Homo sapiens: one gene and its partners. The protein of the gene in region 5 interacts with the protein of the main gene of each other region in a pairwise test. Each region holds a gene or a part of one and is shown on either strand. Other genes may lie near its edges. The genes, in order: DRC7, THBS3, GNAO1, LGALS8, NEK7, PABIR3 and FAHD2A.

The links.
Region 1: the proteins of NEK7 (region 5) and DRC7 interact in binary tests that used the Homo sapiens proteins (3 or more experiments, as listed by UniProt).
Region 2: the proteins of NEK7 (region 5) and THBS3 interact in binary tests that used the Homo sapiens proteins (3 or more experiments, as listed by UniProt).
Region 3: the proteins of NEK7 (region 5) and GNAO1 interact in binary tests that used the Homo sapiens proteins (3 or more experiments, as listed by UniProt).
Region 4: the proteins of NEK7 (region 5) and LGALS8 interact in binary tests that used the Homo sapiens proteins (3 or more experiments, as listed by UniProt).
Region 6: the proteins of NEK7 (region 5) and PABIR3 interact in binary tests that used the Homo sapiens proteins (3 or more experiments, as listed by UniProt).
Region 7: the proteins of NEK7 (region 5) and FAHD2A interact in binary tests that used the Homo sapiens proteins (3 or more experiments, as listed by UniProt).

The regions. Positions count from the first base shown.
Region 1 is NC_000016.10:57,722,306-57,725,805, reverse strand, and holds part of DRC7 (dynein regulatory complex subunit 7), read right to left. Parts: intron 3,094-3,500; coding exon 2,965-3,093; intron 2,805-2,964; coding exon 2,676-2,804; intron 1,192-2,675; coding exon 971-1,191; intron 1-970. UniProt on the Homo sapiens protein: Component of the nexin-dynein regulatory complex (N-DRC) a key regulator of ciliary/flagellar motility which maintains the alignment and integrity of the distal axoneme and regulates microtubule sliding in motile axonemes.
Region 2 is NC_000001.11:155,197,898-155,201,397, forward strand, and holds part of THBS3 (thrombospondin-3 isoform 1 precursor), read right to left. Parts: intron 3,308-3,500; coding exon 3,197-3,307; intron 3,108-3,196; coding exon 3,000-3,107; intron 2,930-2,999; exon of another isoform or gene 2,803-2,929; intron 2,714-2,802; coding exon 2,554-2,713; intron 2,415-2,553; exon of another isoform or gene 2,275-2,414; intron 2,217-2,274; coding exon 2,098-2,216; coding exon of another isoform or gene 2,085-2,097; intron 1,960-2,084; coding exon 1,907-1,959; exon of another isoform or gene 1,901-1,906; intron 722-1,900; exon of another isoform or gene 706-721; coding exon 512-705; exon of another isoform or gene 447-511; intron 365-446; exon of another isoform or gene 324-364; coding exon 145-323; intron 32-144; coding exon 1-31. UniProt on the Homo sapiens protein: Adhesive glycoprotein that mediates cell-to-cell and cell-to-matrix interactions. Can bind to fibrinogen, fibronectin, laminin and type V collagen.
Region 3 is NC_000016.10:56,330,989-56,334,488, reverse strand, and holds part of GNAO1 (guanine nucleotide-binding protein G(o) subunit alpha), read right to left. Parts: intron 1-3,500. UniProt on the Homo sapiens protein: Guanine nucleotide-binding proteins (G proteins) function as transducers downstream of G protein-coupled receptors (GPCRs) in numerous signaling cascades.
Region 4 is NC_000001.11:236,526,982-236,530,481, reverse strand, and holds part of LGALS8 (galectin-8), read right to left. Parts: intron 1-3,500.
Region 5 is NC_000001.11:198,159,998-198,163,497, reverse strand, and holds part of NEK7 (serine/threonine-protein kinase Nek7), read right to left. Parts: intron 1-3,500. UniProt on the Homo sapiens protein: Protein kinase which plays an important role in mitotic cell cycle progression. Required for microtubule nucleation activity of the centrosome, robust mitotic spindle formation and cytokinesis.
Region 6 is NC_000023.11:134,848,737-134,852,236, reverse strand, and holds part of PABIR3 (PABIR family member 1), read right to left. Parts: intron 3,071-3,500; coding exon 3,009-3,070; intron 1-3,008.
Region 7 is NC_000002.12:95,405,708-95,409,207, reverse strand, and holds part of FAHD2A (oxaloacetate tautomerase FAHD2A, mitochondrial), read right to left. Parts: coding exon 3,405-3,500; intron 2,268-3,404; coding exon 2,051-2,267; intron 1-2,050. UniProt on the Homo sapiens protein: Tautomerase that converts enol-oxaloacetate, a strong inhibitor of succinate dehydrogenase, to the physiological keto form of oxaloacetate. It is thereby required to maximize aerobic respiration efficiency by preventing succinate dehydrogenase inhibition.

The DNA of each region.
Region 1 (3,500 bases), on a different chromosome or scaffold from region 5:
ACCACCTCTCCAGGCAGCCTACTCCATTGCTAGACATCCCTTACTGCTAGAAAGAGCTTCTTTGGCATGCTGCCATTACACACAGTTGCCAACTAATTTGTAATGACATGAAGGGGAAAATGCACAATTTCATGTTAAGTGGGTAATACAGGGACTCTAATCCCTGGGTCCCGATCTCAATTACATTAGAAAAAACTCTCAAAACCAAACCTATAATCCGTGGCAACATATGAGAGATGCCATTCTGAGATATGTTTACTTTTCTCTACATTTTTACATATTTTCCAAATGTTTAGTCATGAGTGTGTATTTTTGTATAACAATAAGGAAGTAACACATCCTTGGCCCCATGGCTGAGGGCACAGTCTGACACCAGACAACCCCAGGATGGCGCATTTGGTGATATGGTTTAGTTTCGTGTCCCCCCACCAAAATCTCACCTTGAACTGTAATCCCCATAGGTCAAGGGCGGGACCAGGTGGAGATAATTGAATCATGGAGGTGGTTTCCCCCATGCTATTCTCGTGATAGTGAGTGAGTTCTCCCACGATCTGATGGTTTTATAAGCAGCTTCCCCTTTGCTCAGCACTTATTCTCTCTCCTGCTGCCCTGATTCTAGTGAAAAGGACCCTTTTCACTAGGCAGAAGGTGGAAAGGACCCTTTTCACTAGGCAGAAGGTGAAAAGGACCCTTCTGCCATGATTTTAAGTTTCCTAAGGGCTCCCCAGCCATGCAGAACTGTGAGTCAAGGAAACTTCTTTTCTTTATAAATTACCCAGTCTCAGGTATTTCTTCAAAGCAGCATGAGAACAGACTAATACATTTGGTAAAATGCTTGGTTCATCATTGGTGCCCTTGGATATGTCTCAGGCCTTAATGCCACCCCAGAGCCAGGGCTCTCACCATTCAGAGGTGACATCAGCTGCCAGAGAAGGAGGGCGACCTGTCCCCAGCCCCCGCGAGCTCTTACCACAATGGGCCGGGGGTTTGACTCTGCACTGCTCAGAGTGAGCTTCTTGACTCGGGGTCCGAAGCTGGCATGGCGGTAGGAGAGGAAGTCTGGGCGTCCTTGATAGTACTCTGTCATTGTCCTGGGTGTCTCCTCCCGCTTCATCAGGCCATCCACACGGGCCGTTTCATAAAACTCAATGACACGGTCCATCTCAGGTTGCATGGACTTGTACGAGTGCACTGGGTGGGGAGCGGGAGTTGGGAGGAGACAGCTTCATAAGCACTAGGAAGTATGGCTGCTGGCTTGGTCGCCCAACCCCAGGCCCAGGGAGAAGACAGACCCACATTATGGATGAGGTTAGCTATGAACCAGTCCCCTATTGCTGGGTGTTTAGGTTGCGTACAACTTTTTCTGATTATTACCAACACCATGATGAACATCTGCATCGTGCATTTTTTGTTCTTGTCCATTATTTGCTAAGAATAAATTCTCAGCAGTGGAATTGCTGGGCCCAAAAGTGTACTTTTTTTTTTTTTTTTTTTTTGAGACACAGCCTCGCTCTGTCACCCAGGCTGGAGTGCAGTGGTGTGATCTCAGCTCACCGCAGTCTCCGCCACCTGGGTTCAAGTGACTCTCCTGTCTCAGCCTCCCAAGTAACTGGGACTACAGGCACCTGCCACCACACCTGGCTAATTTTTGTATTTTTAGTAGAAACGGGGTTTCACCATGTTGGCCAGGCTGGTCTCAAACTCCTGACCTCAGGTGATCCACCCAAAGTGCTGTGATTATAGGTGTGCGCCACTGTGCCCAGCCAAAAGCGTACACGTTTTATGGTCATTATCAATATTTTGCCCAACTGTCCTCCAGAAAAGTTCCAATCTGCTGTCCCATCAACAGTGACACAGAGTGACTGTTGCTCCCATACTTGTTCATACCCAGTAGGACCATTTTTTTCATCTTTGCCAACATGGGGGTTATAAGATGGTCCTTTATTGGTTAGGGACCTTATTAGTTTCTTTTTTTTTATTATCAACTTCCAAATGAGGTTGATCATTTAAAAAAAATGTATATTACTCCTATGCTTTTCTTTTGTAAATTTCTTGGTCAGGATTTTTTTTTTTTTCTTGAGACAGGATCTCTATCTGTCACCCAGGCTGGAGTGCAGTGGCATAATCTCGGCTCACTGCAGCCTCGACCTCCTGGGTTCAAGTGATTCTCCTGCCTTAGTCTCCTGAGTAGCTGGGATTACAAGCACATGCCACCATGCCTGGCTAATTTTTATATTTTTTGTAGAGATGGGGTTTCACCATATAGCCCAGGCTGGTCTTGAACCCCTGGGCTCAACTGCCCATGTTGGCCTCCCAAAGCGCTTGGATTACAGGTGTGAGCCCCTGTGTCCGGCACTGCCTCCTTTAAATGTGGCCTCCACCGTGTGACCCCATGGTGAGGTTCCGGCCTGATTCCAACCACAGAACGGGTATGTGGCGCCCCCTTTAGCTTTCCTGGAGGAGCATTTGTTATATTTCCTTAGAATTTCTGAGCTTTCCCTGACCTCCCACACATCGGGTTTGCTGAGGGAGGCAGGGCAGCTTCTACTGCTTGCTGCCCAAGAACCCATGTATAATATGTATGCTGGTTCCTGCCACCACATACCACCTGCCACAGGGTGTGTGAGGCCTCTACCCCAGGCTCCTGGGTGGCCCAGGAAAGGGGAGCCACGCACCGCGCAGAGCCTGGGGGTGGCCAGGCTTGAAGTAGTCTGTCTTCAGGTCTGTGGTCTTGTTTATGTGTTTCAGCTCCAGCATGTCTTCCCGGTTCTGGTACCACTCCTTTATCTCCAAAATATTGGTACCTGTGGGGCCGATGGACACTTGCCGCAGCCAGGCCAGCTCCCCTAGCCTTCAACCCCCCTTATTCCAGGCACACAGAGGCCAGCAATGACCCCAGAGAGAGTAGAAGCCGCCCCCGCCCCTGGGCTGGCCTGGACCCATGTCCAGAGCAATCCCCCTTACACTGCAAGTCCTCATAGGTGGTGAGGCGGCTCACAAGGCCATTGCTATTGAGGTACGGGGCCCACTTCTCCAGCTTTGCCCTCTTGTACTGAATCACCTTCTTCCCGTTCGGGCAGCGGGTCTCAAATGCTGTGGACACAGTCAGCTGTGGTCTCTTCTTGCTAGTTTGGGGGAAGGGAGGGCCAGCCCCGCCCAGCCATTCATCCATCCACTGCCCGTTCTCTGTGTACTGAACTCCTCCAGCCCCAAGCCTGATCCAGGGAGGCCGAGGAGAATAATCACCAGGGGTGGCTCCAGCCCTAGAGGGGTTCTCAGGCCAGGCAGAAGCACAGATCCACCCAAGAATGGGATTTGAGCCCCATCAGAGGGTCTGCCCTGCAGCCAACCACACTCTCACATTGCCAGGCCTTTGCTTGTACAGGTCTCTGCCAGAAACACCGTCATCCCCTCCTCCCCTTGTTGGACTGACTCCTTCAGATCCTTCCAAACTTCACCCAGGTGACCCCTAGCCTACTTCTGGTACCCCTTTCTGCTCA
Region 2 (3,500 bases), about 43 Mb from region 5:
CACTGTTCATGGTCTGAACGATTTCCATGCCCTGGGGTTGTATAGTAAAGAAAAAGCTGTGATGCAGGTGTGCTATCCCTCCCAGGCCCCCCGTCCCAGTAGCCCTGTCTGATAGCACCTGCCCAGCCCACTGCCCCGAGTTACCTGGTTGAGCACAACCCAGTTTGGGTCAATCTGAGCATCACCCTCAGGATCCAGGACGACGGTCTGATAGGCCCGAAAATCCGTAAGCGTTACCTCTGCACTTTCAGGACACACATCCAGGGGGTCGACCACAGCATCATTGTCAAAGTCATCCTCACACACATCACCAACGCCATTGCCTGGGCAGAGTGAGGCTGGGTGCTCAGGAAGGCCCTGGCCACTGCCATTAGGCAACAATACCATCTGTTGGGCCTGCATTCCTGACATCTTTCCCCACCTTGCCCTTCCTCACTTCCCAACAGGGCTTGCTGCCTCCACCTGGGCAAAGGCAACACCAGTCTAACGTGCTCTGGGTCCGCAGGCTTACCATCTGAGTCCTTCTGATTGGGATTGGGTACCAGGCGGCAGTTATCGGGACCAGGAGGCACATAATCTGGGATGCCATCATTGTCATCATCCCCATCACACTCATCTCCAAGTCCATCGTTATCAGAGTCCAGCTGGGAGCTATTTGGCAGCTGTGGGCAGTTGTCCTTGGTGTCCTGATGCCCATCCCCATCGCTAATCAGAAGAACAGGTACCAAATAAAGGATTTAAAGGTACTCCTTGTCCTTCCCTTCGCTTCTGCCTGGGAGTCTCTGGAGCCTGCTCTCCATACAATCAGACCCCTGGCAGTCAGCCAGGTGAGGTGAAGGTCTGGCAGTAGGAATGGAGGGATGACTGTAAGAATAAATTCCTGCTGAATAGCAATAGAGAATTAAGGCTAAATCATAGAAGGAATTTAGAATATACTATGGCCTGGGCACAGTGGCTCATGCCTGTATTCCCAGTACTTTGGGAGGCCAAGGCGGGCAGATCACCTGAGGTCAGGAGTTCGAGACCAGCCTGGCCAACACGATGAAACCCTGTCTCTACTAAAAACACAAAAATTAGCTGAGCTTGGTAGCACGCGCCTGTAATCCCAGCTACTCGGGAGGCTGAGGCAGGAAAATCGCTTGAACCCTGGAGGTGGAGGTCGCAGTGAGCCGATATCACTGCACTCCAGCTTGAGTGACAGAGCAAGACTCCATCTCAAAAAAAAAAAGGAGGCCGGGCACGGTGGCTCACGCCTGTAATCCCAGCACTTTGGGAGGCTGAGGCAGGCAAATCACGAGATCAGGAGATCGAGACCATCCTGGTTAACACAGTGAAACCCCGTCTCTACTAAAAACACAAAAAATTAGCCGGGCGTGGTGGCAGGCGCCTGTAGTCCCAGCTACTTGGGAGGCTGAGGCAGAAGAATGGCGTGAACTCGGGAGGTGGAGCTTGCAGTGAGCCGAGATCATGCCACTGTACTCCAGCCTGGGCGACAGAGCAAGACTCCGTCTCAAAAAAAAAAAAAAAAGGATATACTAGAGGAAAGTAAAATATCCCCTATAAGACCTTGCATTTCGCTGGCACAGTGGCTCACACCTGTAATCACAGCACTTTGGGAGGCAGAGGCTGGCGGATCACCTGAGGTAAGGAGTTCGAGACCAGCCTGGCCAACATGGTGAAACCCTGTCTCTACTGAAAATACAAGAATTAGCTGGGCTTGGTAGCACATGCCTGTAATCCTAGCCACTCAGGGAGGTTGAGGCATGAGAATCACTTGACCCTGGGAGACGGAGGTTGCAGTGAGCCAAGATCGTGCCACTGTACTCCAGCCTAGGTGACAGAGCAAGACTCCGTCTCAGAAAGACAAAAAAAAGAAAGACCTTGCGTCTCTTGACCAAGACCTTACCTGTCTTCATTAGTATCACAGACATCCCCCACCAGGTCGCTGTCTGCATCTGTCTGAGAGAGAGGGACCTGTTCTCACCATCTCCTCTTGATAACTCTGAAGAGGGTGATCTGACCACTTTCCATCCAAAGGGCTGGGGCTTCATCCATCAGTACCCTCATCCCTCCCCTGTCCTTACCATCTCCCTGTACCTGGGTAGGATTGCTCATTTCAGGGCAGCTGTCGCAAGCATCTCCCACCCCGTCCTCATCCCTGTCTGTCTGTAGTGGGTTGGGGACTTTAGGGCAATTGTCCAATCCATTGGGGATGCCTAGAAGACATGGGTAGCACAAGGTTGTTACTAGAACATGCCATATTCTCTCTTCTAGGTTGGTGAAAGTCCCGAACTTTGTCTCCCCACCCAGAGGACAACTGGCCAGGAAATCTGCCTGTTTCTTGTCTCACCCTCTAGTCCACACTCTGCCTAACACTACGCCCTACCTCACATTCCTATTGACATCTGCTGCAGGTAATCTCTCCTCACCCAGGCCAACGTCCACAAGCCTGCCTCCCTATTTCACAGAGACTTCCTAGCTTCCCTGCTTCATCCCCACCTGATCCAAATTCTCACAGGTCCCCCAGCCACCCCTTCAGCCCCAGGCCTGCACCATCCCCATCCACGTCGTTGTCACAGGCATCTCCTTCCCCATTGCCATCTGTGTCCTTCTGGTCATTGTTGGGAACGTTGGGGCAATTGTCACAGGCATCACCAAATGAATCTGTATCTGAGTTCTGCTGGTCTTTGTTGGGGAACAGCCGGCAGTTGTCCTGGGCAGAGGGGTGGGAGGGGAAGGGTCAGGTCTCCCCTAAATCACTTGTCATCTTGCACCTACCTTGTCTCTGTATCCTTTTCTAAGATCACACCCTTGTGATGGACAAACTGCTCAGTACAGTCCCACCCACCCAGCCTCCTTGTCCTGGGCACGAGGTTTTTGCCTCCCTGATTTGGAGTATTTGGCCCTTACTAGAGAGCTGCCAGATGAGGTAAGTGAGGCACAGAGAGGACAGGAGGAGGGGAGAGGAGCTTCAAGGGGCAGGGCAGTCTGGGAGTCACCTCAACATTCTTGATCCCATCCCCATCAGCATCATCATCACACTGGTCCCCCACACCATCATTATCAGCATCTTCCTGCCCAGAGTTGGGTGTCAAAAGGCAGTTGTCCTAAAGTTCAGGGGAAGAGGATGGATGAGTTCTGGCCTGACCCAGCTTGGGCTCCCCACTACGCCCCCTTGCCCGCCTGCTCCCTGCACCTGTTTGCAGTGTTTGTTGTTGTCCATGCAGGGCAGTGCTTGGTCTGGGTAGCCATCGATGTCTGTGTCAGTCCCACACACGTTCCCATTCCCAGCCCAGCCCACGTTACACTAGGGCAACACAAAGGGTAGGAGCTAGCAGTTTGGTCTGGCTCCCCTCCTCCCTATATTTTCCCTGCTTCAGGTCCTATTCTCCCCACCAAACAGTTCCTGGGCCCAGGCCCACCTCTCTCCTATGAAGACCCCCAACCCAGGCCCTAAACATAGCCCTACTCCTTTCCCCAGACCCTCCCTTTTCCTTCCA
Region 3 (3,500 bases), on a different chromosome or scaffold from region 5:
CTCAGACAAGATCAAGCTTTTATATGAGACTACCATGTTTATTATAATACTGTTTTGTCATTTTTTCATTTAAAAGATAATAATGGCCAACAGATAGGTTCTATTCTTTGCATGTGTAACCATGTTTCATGTGTAATTTCCCTGAGTTAAATGTACTAAAACTGGGGCTCATCGAAGGTAAGTACCTTGCCTGAGGCTGTGACCCGGACCCTTGGCTCCAGAGGCCATAATTTTATTACTGTCTGGGGCTTCAGCGGCCCCTGAGCAGTTCCCTGCCTTCTCCACACTTCCTTCTCACTTACCAAGGGGTCTGTGTGCCCCTTCCAATTTGATGCTCTTGGAGGCTCAGGGCTGCACAGCCATACAGCGGCTGGGCCTCCCTGGGACCCGGTCTTTGGAATCAGGGCTCTTTACCCCTGCTACCTCCTGCTGTGGGGACAGACCAGGCTTTTGCAAGTCACCTGCCCAGGCCTCAGGCCAAGCACTCAGAGGACGCTGCCTGCAAGGGCTTTGGGGTTCATTGTGGGTTAAGTTTGAACCTAAAGCCAGGGTAGGATCTGGGAAATCAGGAAGTGGGGAGCTGGGCCAGGCCTGAAGGAAGACTCAGTGATCCATGGAGCCTGCCAGGCCACCCATCCCTGCTGCCGGGGCAAACCACAAGCAGCCCACAGGGAGGAGCCCCAAGTGTCTGAACCACAGAACGATGTGGGGTCCCAGGCTGCATCTGCTCCAGGACCTGCTGGGGGCCAGCTTGCTGGCTGGACCTGCAGTTACCACTGCATGAGAGATGGGCATGCTGACCAGCTCATGGATGTCCACAGGGCTGGAAAGGGCAGATGACTTCGCCAGCTAGGGTGTTCACTGATAGAACCCAGTGACAATCCTTGTGAGAATGCCCCTAAGAAAAGAAAACAGAAGGGTGGCTTCCAAGGCTCAGGGAGGTAAGCTTGAAGTCACACTGCGAGAAAATGAACTTGGCAGCCGGGTGCGGTGGCTCACGCCTGTAATCCCAGCACTTTGGGAGGCCAAGGTGGGCGGATCATGAGGTCAGGATTTTGAGACCATCCTGGCCAACATGGTGAAACCCCATCTCTACTAAAAATGCAAAAATTAGCTGGGCCTGGTGGCAGGTGCCTATAATCCCAGCACTCAGGAGGCTGAGGCAGGAGAATCGCTTCAACCCAGGAGGCGGAGGTTGCAGTGAGTTGAGATCGTGCCACTGTACTCCAGCCTGGGTGACAGAGCAAGACTCTGTCTCGGGGAGAAAAAAAAAAAAAAGAAAAAAAGAAAATGCACTTGGCTGGGATTCCAGCCCAGTTCTGACTGGCTCCAGACCCCACGCTCTTAAACTGGACATCATCAGCATTTTAAAAATCCAGAAAAAAAATTTAAACAGGACTCCTGGCCTCCTCTCCTGAGCCTGACTGCCCTCCGTGGACAGGAACGGTGTGGGGATGGGGTGAGAGAGCCGAGGCTGCAGAGCAGACCTGTACACGCCCCCGGCCTCACAGCCTCCTCGCCAGCCAGTGGCATCTGGGCAGGCTCTGGTCTCAGCCAGAAGGAGCCTCTCCCAAGCCTCTGTGCCTGCCCCGCCCTGGCGCCCATGACCTCTGCTTCCAAGCTGTGAGGACGCCCTCTGCTGTCATCTGCAGCTGGACACCAGCCTGGAAGCGTTTGGTCCTGCTCTTCCTTTCCCAGCCAGGGCAAACCTCCTTTAGATGGGCAACCTGGCCCTCTGGCCTCTCTGTGCTGGCCGAGCCTCATGCAAGGAGACGGCTGTGGAGGGTGGGCAAGGTGTGGGAGAACTGCTTAACAACCCAGTCGGGAAGGCTGACTGTGCACCTGCTGTCCATCCCACCTAGCCACTGTTCCAGGAGCTGGGGATGGGGCAGTCGACACAGCCCCACCTTCCCAGGGCCTGTGTTCCAAGTGAGTGTGCACACGTGTGTGAGGTGGTAAACAGAAGAGTCAGAGAGATGATATGTCAGGAGGTAGTGTGAGAGAACGAATCAGGCTATTAGTGATGGGGGAGAGCTGCTGGGGGCTGCTATTTGATGCAGGGTGGTTGGGGAAGGCGTCTGGATAGGGGAGACTGAGGGGAATGAGGGAGCAAGTGGGCCTCGAGTGGCCCAGTGGAAACACTGGCAGGCATGGCGGCAGGAAGCACACGTGGAGGGGCCAGGTGGTGGGTGAGGCTGGGGAAGGTGGTGGAGGTGAGGGTGGCCAGAGTCCGGCTGGGGCAAGCAGGCCCTTGAGGTCATTGTCAGGGCTTGAGCTTTTGCTCTGAGTGAGATGGGAGCCCCTCGAGGGTTCTGGCCAGAAGCATGTTGACAACGGCCCTGTTGCTGCCATGAGAGCAGGTCAGCGGGTGGGGCCTGCAGAGCTGCTGTCGTCACCAGATGGCACTGGCACAGTGGGGGTGGCTGTGGAGGGTGTGAGTGGTCAGAATCTGATGTACCTGCCAGGGGAGCTGCATCTGCTGGTGGCCTCGGTGTGGGATACAGGAGGACGAGCAGAAGTAGAGATACCTCCACGTGGTGGAATGAGACACATTTAGAGGGAGGGAGGAGCACACAGAGCAGCTTCTAGTGGGAGGATGGGAGCCAGGGGTTCCACGGGCTCATGTTAACTTGAGACTCATTTGATGTCCAAACAGGCACTGAGTAGGCAGAAGTCAGGAGGGAGGGCTGGGCTGGCGATATGAATTTGAGAGTTGTCCAAGTGTACAAGGTGTTTAAAACGAGACAGGAGAAGGTCACCAGGCACCAGGCCTTGAGAGGAGGTGCTTCTGGGATGGAGCTTGGGGACGGGATACAGCAGCCCCCAGCAGACCTCCCCCATCACCAGTTGCCTGGGTGGGTGGGCAGGAGGCATCGAGGGAGTCTGGAAAGGGCGGCCCGAGAGGAGGCGGGGGCTGGGAGTGAAAGGAGGTACCAGGTACTAGGGGACTGAACCCTGAACCCTGAGTGGGAGGAGGCTGATGGAGCAGCCCCCAGGATAGGACTGGGCTATGAGCCATCTCAGCAGGCGGAGGAGCAAGAGCTCGATAGGAGTGGGGTCAAGAGAGAAGGTGAGGAGAGGAAACGTCGGACGCCAGCATGGACAACTCAGTGGGGAACTGGATTTGAGGAAAGCCAATGCCAACCAGGCCCCAGAGCACCTTTCACAGCCCCTGGTTGGATGTGCCCAGGGTTTCTGGGACCTGCCTCTAGGTAGTTATCCAGAAGGGAGAGCCAGCCCTGTTCACAGAGGCCGGGGTGCACCAAGAGCCTGCTCAGGAGCCTGTGCCCTGGTCCCTCCCCTGTAAAGGGCTGGGCAGAGAAGTGCTTTGGTGGTTGGGGCATTAGGGTGTCAATGGCACCCCCTGGAAGCACGTGCTGTGGCAGCCCTGTGAGTCCTCCCTCTCCTTTCCAGCACAACAAACCTACTCTGATCTGCTTTCTATACTGGGCCCAAGACTTTGTCAGAAGCTGAGGTCTAACTGCTAAGACAGGAAATGT
Region 4 (3,500 bases), about 38 Mb from region 5:
CATTAAAGACAAAATTTCACTAGTAAAACCAAAAAAGAAAAGAGAGTGAAAAATCAGAGGGCAGAGCCTTAGTGAGGAAATCCACTCTCAGTCAGGAAGGCAGGCAGCAAAAAGAGAAGAAAAACAGCACAAAGGCTAGAAGGTATCTCACAGGTTACAAAAGAAAGACTTGACTGTGTTGTGTTTTAAGACTAAATTGTAAGGTAAAAAAGGAGTACTTAGAATACTAAGCAGAAAAGGATAAACATGGAAGCAAGGTTCCTAAGAAAACTGGGTACCAGGTAGGATTTATGTTGACAAGCAACTTATTAACTTGGAGTAACAACCAATTCTGTTTCATTTCTAAATGATTTCTTAACCAGCTAGCATTTAATCATATCTTAAGAACTCTATAAACAATAGCAAAATTAAATATATAGGTAGATAATGAACTGCCAAACAAGAAATTTCACTGGCAGCATTCCTGGTATGAAGTAAAGATACTGTCTTCCAAATTATTCATTCAAATTCAATAGAAAGAAAAGTAAGTGGCCAGCCACGGTGGTTCACGCCTATAATCCTAGCACTTTGGGAGGCCGAGGCGGGCGGATTGCCTGAGCTCAGGAGTTCGAGACCAGGCTGGCCAACATGGTGAAACCCCGTCTCTACTAAAATACAAAAGAACAATTAGCGGGGCGTGGCGGTGTGCGCCTGTAGTCCCAGCTACTCGGGAGGCTGAGGCAGGAGAATTGCTAGAACCCAGGAGGCAAAGGTGGCAGTGAGCCGAGATTGCACCACTGCACTCCAGCATGGGCAATAGAGCAAGCCTCCATCTCTTAAAAAAAAAAAAAAAAAGAGAAGAAAGAAAAAAAAAAAAAAACAGAAAAGGAAGCCTAACTTTTTTTTTCTTTTTTTTTTTTTGAGATGAAGTATCACTCTGTCGCCCAGGATGCAGTGCAGTTGTGCAATCTTGGCTCATTACAACCTCCACCTCCCGGGTTCAAGTGATTCTCCTGCCTCAACCTCCCATGTAGCTGGGATTACAGGCCACCGCCACCATGCCCGGCTAATTTTTGTATTTTTAGTAGAGACGGGGTTTCACTGTGTTAGTCAGGCTGGTCTCGAACTCCTGACCTCAAGTGATCCTCTCGCCTCGGCTTCCCAAAGTGCTGGGATTACAGGCATGAGCCGCAGCACCCGGACTCTGACTTTTTATTTTTATTTTTGAACATGGTTCTTGCTCTGTCACCCAGAATGAAGCACAGTGTCAAACTCACAGCTCACTGCAGCCTCAACCTCCTGGGCTCAAGCAATCCTCCCACCTCACTCTTCCTCATAGCTGGGACTACAGACATGCGCCACAATCCCCAGTTAATTTTTGTATTTTTATAGAGAGACAAGGTCTCACTATGTTGCTCAAGCTGGTCTTGAACTCCTGGGCTCAAGTGATCCACTAGCCTTGGCCTCCCACAGTGCTGGAATTACAGGCATGAGCCTCTGGACCCAGCCTTAGAGCCTGACTTTTTTAAGTCTTGGAATTCTATCAGTTGAACTAGTCAAAGAAATATACTAAATAGGGAAAAAAATACATAGGCCAGTTGCAATATTTACTTCATCTTTTCCAAGAAAACTTAATGTGGACAGTTGGTCTAACACCAATGTGGACCAAAATATTAGAAATAGGCCAGGCATGGTGGCTCATGCCTGTAATCCCAACACTTTGGGAGGCCGAGGCGGGAGGAGTGCTTGACCAGACTGAGAAACATGGCAAAACTCTGTCTTTACCAAAAAAAATACAAAAATTAGCCAGGCATGGTGGTGCATGCCTGTAGTCCCAGCTATTTACAAGGCTGAGCCCAGGAGGTGGAGGTTGCAGTGGGGTAAGACTGCACCACTCCACTCCAGCCTGGATGACAGAGCGAGCCTCTGTCTTAAAAAAAAAAAAAAAAAAAAAAATTGGAAACATTAATGAAATAAAAATTAAAAAGTGGCGGTGTGTTTATAATGCCTAATAAAGAATACAACAGACAATAAATATATTTACTTATTGAACCTATCAGTAACAAAACAACCATGATTCAAGAAAACAGGTTTTGTGTGTGGGGGGGTTTTTTTTTTTTTGAGATGGAGTCTCGCTCTGTCACCCAGGCTGGAGTGCAGTGGCACCATCTCGGCTCACTGCAACCTCCGCCTCCCAGGTTCAAGTGATTCTCTTGCCTCAGCCTCCCGAGTAGCTGGGATTACAGGAGGCTGCCATCACGCCTGGCTAATTTTTGTATTTTTAAGTAGAGACGGAGTTTCGCCATCTTGGCCAGGCTGGTCTTGAACTCCTGACCTCGTGATCCACCTGCCTCGGCCTCCCAAAGTGCTGGGATTACAGGTGTGAGCCACCATGCCCAGCTGAAAACCGTTTTCCTAAGTCTAGCTTATAAAATATACTAATTGATTATCTTTAAATAACTAAGTTGGCCAGGCATGGTGCCTCACGCCTGTAATCCCAGCACTTTTGGAGGTCAAGGTGGGCACATCACCTGAGGTCAGGAGTTTGAGACTAGGCTGGCCAACACTGTGAAACCCCATATCTACTAAAAACACAAAAATTAGCCGGGCATGGTAGCACGTGCCTGCAGTCCCAGCTACTCAGGAGGCTGAGGCACTAGAATTGCTTGAACCCGGGAGGCAGAAATTGCAGTAAGCCGAGATTGCATCATTTCACTCCAGCCTGGGTGACCAGAGGGAAACTATATCTCAAAAAATTAAAAAAAAAAAATTAATTGAATAAATAAAATAAGTTATTTACAGCCTTTTTTTTTGGAACATTGAAAGGGCAACTAGCTACAAATGAGAGAAATTCAGTGCAATACAGGCCCTTTATACTATAAATATTTTACAGCAGTGAAACGTAAAGAGAGCGCAAAATGTTTTTGCCATTCAGTTCAGTCTACCTCTAACCTTTCCGACTCTTTTGTGAGAACTGATAATAAAACAGAGAATTTTGAAAAGAAAGAAAAAAAAGCTATTTGCCAAAAATATCTCCCTTGGAAATGCATTATCCTCAGAACAGCATCCAGCCCATGCCACAAGACTGAAGGCATTTTCTGCTCTAGCGCAGAACTACTTCTCCAGATCCCCTTCCTCAAGAAATGAAGTCTACTTATTTTTGTTCCACCTCAATAGTTGAGAGTACTGACCCCAGAAACTACAGGAATCAGCAGTATGCTAGAATCAAGATATGCACGAATTTTACCTATAAAATTATCTTCTTTTCTGTGTGAAGGGCAGAAATGAACAGTGTAACCTTTATCCATTCTCCCAGCTTGAGCCAAGATGATACTTCAGACACCCGTGGCAGGCAGCCTAGTTTGTTGTTGTTGTTGTTGTTAAGATCTTTGCAGGAAATCAGTTTACAACCTTGGGATGTTTTTAACTCTAACATGCGCAAAGTCATCTTAAATGTCTCACAAGCTTCCGCTTCAGGAAGTCATCTTTTTTAAACTTACTACCACTGAAAGGCTATTTCT
Region 5 (3,500 bases):
TCTGTCACCAGGTGGGAGTGCGGTGGCATCATCACAGCTCACTGCAGCCTCGAAATCCTAGACTCAAGCCATCCTCCAGGCCCAAGCAATCCTCCTGCCTTAGCCTCCCAAGTAGCTGGGATTACAGGTGCGTGCCACCAAGCCCAACTAATTTTTTTTAAATTTTTTGTAGTGACAGGGTCTCACTATATTGATCAGGCTGGTCTTGAACTCCAGGTCTCAAGCAATCTTCCCACCTTGGCCTCCCAAAGTGCTGAGACTACAAGTATGAGCCACTGTGCCGGTATCATATCACTTTACTATATGGTCCAGCAGTTAGATATAAAGGCAATACAAGATTAGGAATTCATTACATTTTAGAAGTATAACAATTTTTCATAAACACATCTATTCAACTTTTCCAACCATAATATAAGGACATATGTCTTTGTTATGATTATAACCATAATAAAATGTATAGTAATTCACCTAGGTAAATATAAGGATATAGGGGAAATATTTCAACAATTTAAAAAAACAATTTTAAGCATGCTAGGAAGAACATTTTTAATTTTGCCAATTTTTTGAATCTGTATTTAAAGATCTTTTTGCAACTCACATTATTTGTAGTCCATAATATAACCCCCCAAGCCTCTTGTGCCTTTTTCTGCCTGAGAAACTATGGCTTGCTGGCTCTCCCCACACTCCAAAGAAAGTCATAAAAACTAACTCAAATGTAGGAACCATTAAATTTTGAATATGGAAATCACAGGGCAAAGGAAAAGGAGAATTCAAGCAGAGGAAGTGGAAATGGCAGAAGTGGGAAGCAGCCCATTAAGACAAAACTGGGCCAAGGCAGAGTGGGTGACAGGGCCTGTCATCAGAACAAACTGACAACAGGAGATGTGTTTCCCACCCCTGAAGGTCCTAAGAATAGAGAAGTAAGTGAAATGAAACTAACACTGGGCCTGCTACCATACATTTACAAAGGTATTTTCATTTACTCCTCAAGGCAACTTTATGAGTTGCGACAACTACAGTCTGAATAAAATGAGCAACTCAACCAAGGTCATAAAGTAGGCAATGACAACCCTGGAGTTTTCTGCCTAGTCTTTTCCACATCATGGTAAACACAGATAATGATAATATATGTGCAGCAGGGTCAGATAAAGAGAAGAGACTGCTTGTAGCTGGTGGCAACTAGCCAGGAATTCTGATTGTCCCAGGTCCTACCTGGGCTTCCCCGAGGGCTAAGGGGTCAAAAGTCCAGCACACACAAAACCCACTCCTGACTAGAGCTGAGAAAGTGTACTGTGTAATTTTTTCACAAAGCTGTTGCATTTTCCATTCTGCTCTATGCTACTCAGTAGCTACACCCAGGTAAGTCTACAGCTAATTCTTTTCAGAGCAAAGGTCAGAAGTACCTCTACCCCAGGCCAAACATACCTTGACTGTAGGCCCTCTGCTAAAGCACAGGCTCTTTCCAATATTTTTTACTGGGGCGGGGGAGAGTCTTTTTTGAAAGACTAAGTTAATGTTTCCTAAAAAGAAAAAAATTTGCCCAACCCCTTGCTTATGTCAAAAATTCCCTCTAAAGTAGACAAAGGTAGTCATACCAGTAGGCTTAAAATAAAAACTACTAGACAAAGAAACATATGAGTAAGTTTTGGTATGTTTCTTTGTCTAGTAGTTTTCATTTAGTAAAGACAAATGACTGACATTAGATTCTATGTCGCTTTAGTCAGAAGCAGGGAGCCACAGACAGGCATTCATTCAATGTCACAGGATAGGAGTGGGATCCTCCAGAAGCAAAGAATGGTGAAGAAACCTGAAAACATGGATAAACCTAAAAGAGGTTCTTATGCTGACAAACTCTGAAATGAAACACAAAATTTGGGAATGGACAGCTGGGTATTATTCTGAGGGAACTGTGGAAGATCAACAAATTGTCACAAGAGTCTAAGCACAAAAATAATTATAAAACGCTGTTGTGGAAAATTCCGAATCAACCCAAACATCAATGGCATAGCACCACATTTAGACCTCTGGTATTATTTTCTAGAGTGGGGGAAAGCTACCAACCTATTTGTATAAATAAAGCTTTATTTGAACACACCTATGCCCACTTGGTCAGATACTGTATTTGGCTACAATGGCAGCAGATGCAATCACAGGGCTCACAAAGCCAGAAATATTTACCATGTGATCCTTCAGAGAAAAAAATTGTGAATCACTATTCTATAAAAAAGCAGACTGGATTGAAAAAGTAGCCCTTACCCACTACCAACAGAAGACTACTAATAAGATTTACAAAAAGGCCTATTTCCATTATGTAACAGAAAACACGTATTTCTCAATTTTTATAGACCACTAAAATCAGTTTTATTCATTTATATATTGTTCCGCTTAACACTTTGATAGCTATTACAACAAAACCACTCATTGTATAACCTCATTACCTAAATAGTATGGCAGGGCAGTTATTTTGACAAAGGTTAAAAAAGAAGTTATCCTGCTCAAAAATATTAAGGAATGCTTCATGATCATCTGTCCTTCTCATTCCCACTGCCCACTGAAAAGCATGAAATATACTCTGTAAGTGTTTTCTTCAGAATAAAAAAAATTTTGTGAAAATACACAACACCTAGGAATAATCAAACTATTAATTACCAAAGGAGAATTCAGCAGTTTAGAAGTTTTATAACTCTGAGATTGAATTGTATCAATTTAAAAATTCTGAACTGCCATTATATTATACAAATGCATATATTTGATTACAATTATGTAACCAAATGTTATTCATCCATATTCCCTACAAAAATGGGTGGAGGGGGGAGAATTAAATTGAAAAAGTCTCAAAAGGGTAAAGAAATGCGTCTTAAAACATCTTGCTATATATTTACATAAATCCTGATGAAGTGCTGATAAAACAATTCGGAGCAAACAGTAATCATACATGGCATTTCCAAGACACCCTTAAGTCGTACATTAAGTTTAATATGTTTTATAGACGATGCACTGAAATACCTACCCTCGTAGTTTTCCAACAAAAATTCGAAGGGGTAAACACTTAAATGTGAATGAAACCGGGAATGAGGACAGAGTGCTGTTTTGTGCAGCTGCAGCTGCAGCTACACTGTGTATTTTTTAAATACTACACTGTGCATTTTTAAAATACCAAAGCCTATTTAAAAAAAAAAAAAAATCAAGGGAAACAAAACCTGAAAGAAATTTTGGAATTACCTACTTTTTTTTTCCCCAAAAGTGCGTAATCACTAACACTTAACTGGGCCCTGCTCTCAGGCCCAGTTCTCAGGTACCCTGAATGGTGGCGACATTTGTAATACTACAGAGGTACATTCTTAAAACATCAGATAGTTCCTAGGAAAATAGTGTTTAGTTCTGGAAACACTGTAAAAGTCTCTAATGATATCTCAGACCACATATTTAAGTGAAAAAAAGAAGTCTATATTTCAGTAAATGCGCAATAATTGAGGGGAAAAAAAAAGAATACTTAAATG
Region 6 (3,500 bases), on a different chromosome or scaffold from region 5:
TCCCAAAATGCTGGGATTACAGGCGTGAGCCACTGTGCCCGGCCTGCAAGATGATTTGATATAGCTATGTAGTAAGGCTGTTTAATGAGTTTAATGTCATTCCTTATTTTAAAACTTTAGGTTGTTGCTATCTTTATTTTGCTAAATGTACACAATGAACTAAATAGGTAAGTTCTTTTACAGCACACAATGAACAAAATAATTGTATCTTTAGAGATTAAGGTAGAACATCTAATCTCAAAAAAAACAACAACTGCATTTTTGTAATCTTTGCCTTGAAGTAAATGTTAAAATCTGCACAGTGTTTCACATTCATATGATAATCATTTCTGGACCTGAGCAAAACTGACATTCAAGCCCATAACTTCTATTTGAATGATAAAACCCTAAGGTCACCATTAAGATATTGCATAGACCTTCCACAGAAGTGTAATCATGGCTCATAAAGTTTAAAAGAAGTCTGGTGTCCCGTGCCTTGCCAGATTACATTTATGTCACTACAGAAAAACTACTCAGCTCTCTTTTTTGGTTTAACATTGAAAACATGACAAATCAAAACATATTCCTCATAAAAGAAAATTAGATCTTTCTTTGCTAAAACCAGCATTACTTGTCAAACGATATTTATAGCTGCCCAATTTCTGCAGTATTCCGATGTGAAGGCTTATTTGCTCTCGCTTATTCCTTTTTTTTTTTTTTTCCAGACAGAGTCTTACTCTGTTGTCCAGGCTGGAGTGCAGTGGTGTGATCTCGGCTCACTGCAACTTCCGCCTCCTGGATTCAGGCGATTCTCCTGCCTCAGTCTCCTGAGTAGCTGGGATTACAGGCACACACCACCACCCTTGGCTAATTTTTGTATTTTTAGTAGAGACAGGGTTTTGTCATGTTGGCCAGGCTGGTCTTGAATTCCTGACCTCAAGTCATCCGCCCGCCTCGGCCTCCCAAAGTGCTGGGATTACAGGCATGAGCCACTGTGCCCGGCCCATGCTCTTGCTTATTCCTAATGGAAGTCACTGCTGCTTCTCACCATAAAATATGACATCATATGCTTTGGAGACTCTAATCTTGATCTCACTTCACATAATCATCATTCTTTTTAGTTCCCCCCGCCCCCTGCCTCAGGACCTCTCTTTTATTTTTATGGTACCTTTCTCCCACATTTCATTTGTATTAATGGGGTCCAAATAGGACATAGTTTGTTGTTTCCCAAATGAATATGCATATTCCAAAATATATGAATAAATTTCAATTTCTGTTTATCTGTTATTGTATCTGGCCAAAAATGGCCAAATGAATTTTCAGCACATTTGTACAGGGCATGCTTTGGAGGGTGGGGTATGACTGAAAATATGGACTAGGTGGTATATACAGAATTCGCTTTGGAGTTCCCTCAGGGACACCTCAAAGGAATAAGGCAGTCGTCTTTCAGAGCAGCTGAAAACCAAGTGTGAGACAGGTCACATCTCCGAAGACACTGGGCAGAAACTACATCTTTTATGTTAAAATTGATCTATAAAAATAATTTTTCAATCATAAATTCTAAGAAAACTCGAGATACTTTTCATGTGATAACCTATTTATGTATACATGTCTCAAAAGGAGAACTATTTTAATCTGGTAAAACACTCCTCAATTTAAGCGTACTTTATTTTAAATACTCAATTGACCCTTGACTTCTAACAGCTCTTAAACTGCTGATATATTTGAATATTTTTTCAACACTAGCCCGAATTTCACAGCACAGGTAAAAGACCCCTAAGCTTAGTAACCGAAGCATCTTCATAAAACAATGTGCTTACTTTGGAAAAGAGTATTTTCCAGAATTTATCTAGCCCTTAATCTTAGAATACAAAAAGTACATGCTGAGTTAGTTATGTTGTTAGGAAGACTGCCATTAATTAATCGAAAATATACAAAGAACATTAAAGCATATTTCAGTTTCTCTCCTCTTATTCTTCTTACTCCTCTTTCTTACCTTAATAGATTTTTCACAATACACATTTTTAAGTTTAATCTCCTTTCCTATTCACCCATTTCCCCTCCCCATTGTAGTCAAAAATTGTACTAAATATACAGGCTTATGCTTGCAATCTCAGCACTTTGGGAGGCCGAGGTGGGTGGATCACCTGAGGTCAGGAGTTCGAGAACAGCCTGGCCAACATGGTGAAACTCTGTCTCTACTAAAAATACAAAAAAATTAGCTGGGCATGGTGGCAGGCACCTGTAATCCCAGCTACTGGTGAGGCTGAGGCAGGAGAATCGCTTGAACCCGGGAGGAAGAGGTTGCAGTGAGCCAAGATTGTGCCACTGCACTCCAGCCTGGGTGACAGAGCAAGACTCTGTCTCAAGAAAAAAAAAAAAAAAAAAGGAAGAAGAGCATAATTTAGTGAGGTACCATTGAGAAGTGGGATCCAGGATTGCAGGAGTTTTTAAAAAAGACATCTTTCCACTGCCCTTTTATTCTTTCCACTGCCCTTTTATTACTGAGTAGGTGGGTCACTTTCCATATATTTAACCAAAAATAACTCCCATAAAGAAACTAAACACCAAAGAACATACACCTTCATATATATTTTTAGTGTTGTAAGTGGATCTAATTTGTGTCAACTTATTCATATGATAGCAATGTGTGTGTGTGGCAGTGAGGCAGGGGTTGACATTCAGCAAAATACTTGATGACTGACTCACTCTGTTCATTCATTCATTTATTCTCTACATTGTTTTAGAAAGTAATGAAGATAGCTACCTTGGTGAATTATATTGAAAATCCTAATAGCCAACTAAATTGGAATTAAATTTCTCAATTCACATTTATATAGCATTTTAGAGTTTTCAAAATGTCCTTATACATATTTCTAGTTGCATAAAATGAAAGGCCTCTAATAGCTTATTAAATATATTTTAAATAAATAAAGCCTTTAAAAATACATTTTTGTATAACATTTGATTTTAGATATTTTATAAAATAACTTAAAGTTATATTTACTTCTACTGTTAGATAAAAGTACCTTTTCTTTTTAATGGTCCAAGGATACTTGGTCTAATAATGTTGGTAGGATTTTGACTTCTTCTAAAATAAAATCATCATGATCATTATAAGAAATTTTTTTTAACAAAATCAACAATGACTATTTCATTATAACAGATCTAAGGACATACACAAAAACGGGACTCTGTGTAGGATATTACATCATTTTACTGCTTTTCTTTGTTTTTATTTTTACTTTTTTTCTGAGATGCAGTTTGGCTCTTGTCACCGAGGCTGGAGTGCAGTGGCGTGATTTAAGCTCACTGCAGCCTCCGCCTCCTGGGTTCAAGTGATTCTCCTGCCTCAGCCTCCCAAGTAGCTGGGATTACAGGCATGCACCACCACACTCGGCTAATTTTGTATTTTTTTAGTAGACACAGGGTTTCACCATGTTGGCCAGGCTGGTCTCGAACTCCTGACCTTAGGTGATCTGCCTGCCTTGGCCTCCAAAAGTGTTGGGATTACAGGTGTG
Region 7 (3,500 bases), on a different chromosome or scaffold from region 5:
CATGGATTGCTTATTACAAAAATAGAAATGCATCTTCACAATGGAGGGACCTAGTGAATGTCAGCTAAACCAAGTGGTCAAATTCTGGGACCACTGACATGAGCCTCCCAGTGGGATACGATGGAAAATGTATAACATCTGCTTTGTAGATCTCTTGATAAAAATGCTTACCCTGACACTAATCATGAAGAAACAACCAGACAAACCCAGAATGTGAAACATGCTATGAGACAACTGGATTCTTCAAGGAAAGGGCAGGGGGTATTGTTTGAGAGCAGGAGTTGGCAAACTATGGCCAGCTCAACATCTGCTATAATCAACTTTGATTGGAAACCCATCATTCATTTCTGTATCGTGGTTTTCACACTATAACAGCAGAGTTGAATTGTTGCAAAACAGAACATATGACACGCAAAGCCTAATATTTACTAATTGGCCCTTGATATGGTTTAGCTCTGTGTCCCCACCCAAATCTCAACTTGTAGCTCCCATAATTCTAACGTGCTATGGGACGGACCCGGTGGGAGATGACTGAATCATGGGGGCAGGTCTTTCCCGTGCTGTTCTCATGATAGTGAATGGGTCTCATGAGATCTGATAGTTTTAAAAATGGGAGTTTCTCTGCACAAGCTCTTTTCTGCCTGCTGCTATCCACCTAAGATGTGACTTGCTCCTCCTTGCCTTCTGCCATGATTGTGAGGCTTCCCTAGCCACGTGGAACTGTAAGTCCAATTAAACCTCTTTTTTTTGTAAATTGCTCAGTCTCGGATATGTCTTTATCAGCAGCATGAAAACAGACTAATACAGCCCTTTAAGAAAAAGTCTATGGAACCCTGTCCTAGATTGAAACCACTAAAGAGATATAACTGAATACAGTGTGTGGCCTTGGTTGATCATGGAGCAACAAACGAAGTAACCAAATTAGAAGTTATCTTTGGGGAAGTCAGCAGTACTTCCGATTGGGAATTGGGGCAATTGGATTTCATATTAAATATTATTCAAGTTAATTTTTTTGGTTGTGATAATGGTGGGATGGTCATGCAAGCCATTGTCCTTATTCTTAGAAGATGCCTATTTACGTTTTTATGACTAAATTGTCTTAATATTTCCAATGTGTTTTAAAAGGTCCCCTCCACCCCATACCCTGCAAAAAAAAAAAAAAAAAAAAAAAATGTGTGTTTGCCATGTGGAGGGCAGGGAGAAGACAAGGGAGAAAAAGGATATATGGCCAAATGTTTACAATGAAACCAGGTGGAAAAGTTATCTGAGTGTTCACTGTATTATTTTCCCAGCTTTTCTATAATTTTCAAGACATTTCTAAAATAAAAATCTGAGAGAAAAAGTAACCAGTGTTAGAAAGGGTATATACACTACTGGTGGATGTGTAAGTTGCTTTTACAATTTTTTAAAAGGCCAATTGGCAGAATTTTTCAAAAATTTTGAAATACTGCCTATACGCTGACATATTTAAATTCCAAAGGGTTTATTCAAAGGAAATAATAATGTATTAATGGACATGCAAAGCCTTTTCCACATAAGGATGTTTACTGCAACATTTATTTATAGAAGCCAAAAACTAGAAACAGTATCCAGCAGTAAGGTACTCAGGAATAAACTAATCTACATAACAAACTCCGTGGTGTCAGGGCGAATACTTAATGGCATGAAAAAATGCTCCTGATGGAGTCTTAAGTAAAAGGTAAGTATATGTACAGTATAAACATATACAGGAGCGGAGAAACACTGGGAAGGTAGACAGAAAAACATTAATATTCCGAGCCATGGGCAGTGGGATTATGGGTGACATAATTTTTTAATGTTTATCTCTATTTTATTATCTACAGTGAAGGTGCATTGCTTTTGTAACCAGGAAAACACGTACATTAACTTTTTTTTTCCAAGGCCAGTGTTACTACTGTGTGTACAATCCTGTAGAGTTTCTGCTGAATGCGCTATTGAGCGAGAGGTGGCTCCAGTAGGCTCAATACTGAGCTCAGAATGCCCTTGTGATGGGCCCAGTGACTAGGGAGGGCAGTGGGGAGACACTGACCTGGCTCTGTGGTGGGAGGACCACCTCATCATAGGGCCCCACGATGGAGCTGGCAAACTTGCTGAAGATGATGGGCTCCTTGGGCACGGGCACGTTCTGTTCTTTGCAGTGGTCCACATAATTCATGCCCACACACACCACCTTATCTGGTCGTGTGACTGGAGCCAGGAAGGTTACCTCCGACCGTGGTAGGACTGGCAACTGGGCAGCCAGGGCTCTGTAGAGACCAGAGCAGGTGAGAGGGTCTGGCTGGGAACAGGTGGGCAATCCCGGGCAGGCTGGGCAGATCCTGCAGCAGCTACAGGTTTTGCTTTTTGAAATCTATTTCCTAGCTCTATCAACCATCAGAGTCAGTGTGAAAATCACTGACTATTGTCCTTTGCTATCAGAGCAGGGCTTTTATTTATCCAGTGTTGATTTCCTCTCCCCCTTAGGTAACTCATGTCCATGTAAAAGATACAAACTGGAATACATGGAAAGGTTTCCCTTTCCCCTTCCGGTTACCCCGTTCCCCTGGCTCTTCGCAGCTACTCTATGGATATTCTTCTCCCACCCTTTTGTATGCAAATGATAGCATACTATTTACATCTTTTAAAAAAACAACTGATTTTGGAGATCTCTGCTTAACAATATGTAACAATACATAGAGAGTGTCCTCTTTATTTCTTGTGGCTGCATATTACTGCTCTATAGAGATATACCCAAGTCCCTAATGAGGGGCATGGAGATTTCCAGTCTTTGCAGAATATGGCAATATGGGAACATACTGTTAATACTGTGAGCTGTGAAACATTTGTATTTTTTTCCATTTTAATAGATGAAAATGACATCTTAAAGTATTTTTAATTTATTGTTCATCAGCTCCTTAGACCAGATTCTATAGGGGTCCAGGCTTCAGGGACACTCTCACCTAATCTAGTCCAAACCCAGGAACCAAGTGTCTTATAGAAAACCTCCTTGCAGTCCTCTCTCCTTGTAGGAGCTGGGAGTCTATATCACTCCCCCAGCTGCATAAGATGCCTTTTAGGACCCCCGGGCCCAGACCCGTCAGTCAGTCCAGGACTTCATTCCCAGAGGAGGCAGTGTGATGAAGTATAGAGTCCTGGTTCCAGCACCACATGTATGGCCTTCAAATTGTTAATCACCTCCCCTAGCTCTCAGTTTTCTCCTCTGAAAACTGAAGATGTTATTATGTAAGATTTCTAAGGATCTTTTAAGAGAACGGGAGAAAAGGAAAGGTGGGGTTACTCTGCTCCCTTGCAAAAGAGCTACCTGCTGGTGCTGTTTCCCAGAGCGGGGAGGGTGCAGGGGGACCAGGGCAGCTGCTTCAGGGCGATGCTGCCCACTTACTTACCTTCTTGCCACTGAGAGGGTGGCCTCTCCCTGCTCTAGGAACTGCGTCATCGTCTTCGGGAGTGTGGGGTCAAAGGCATTGAGGTTGATAACCCCT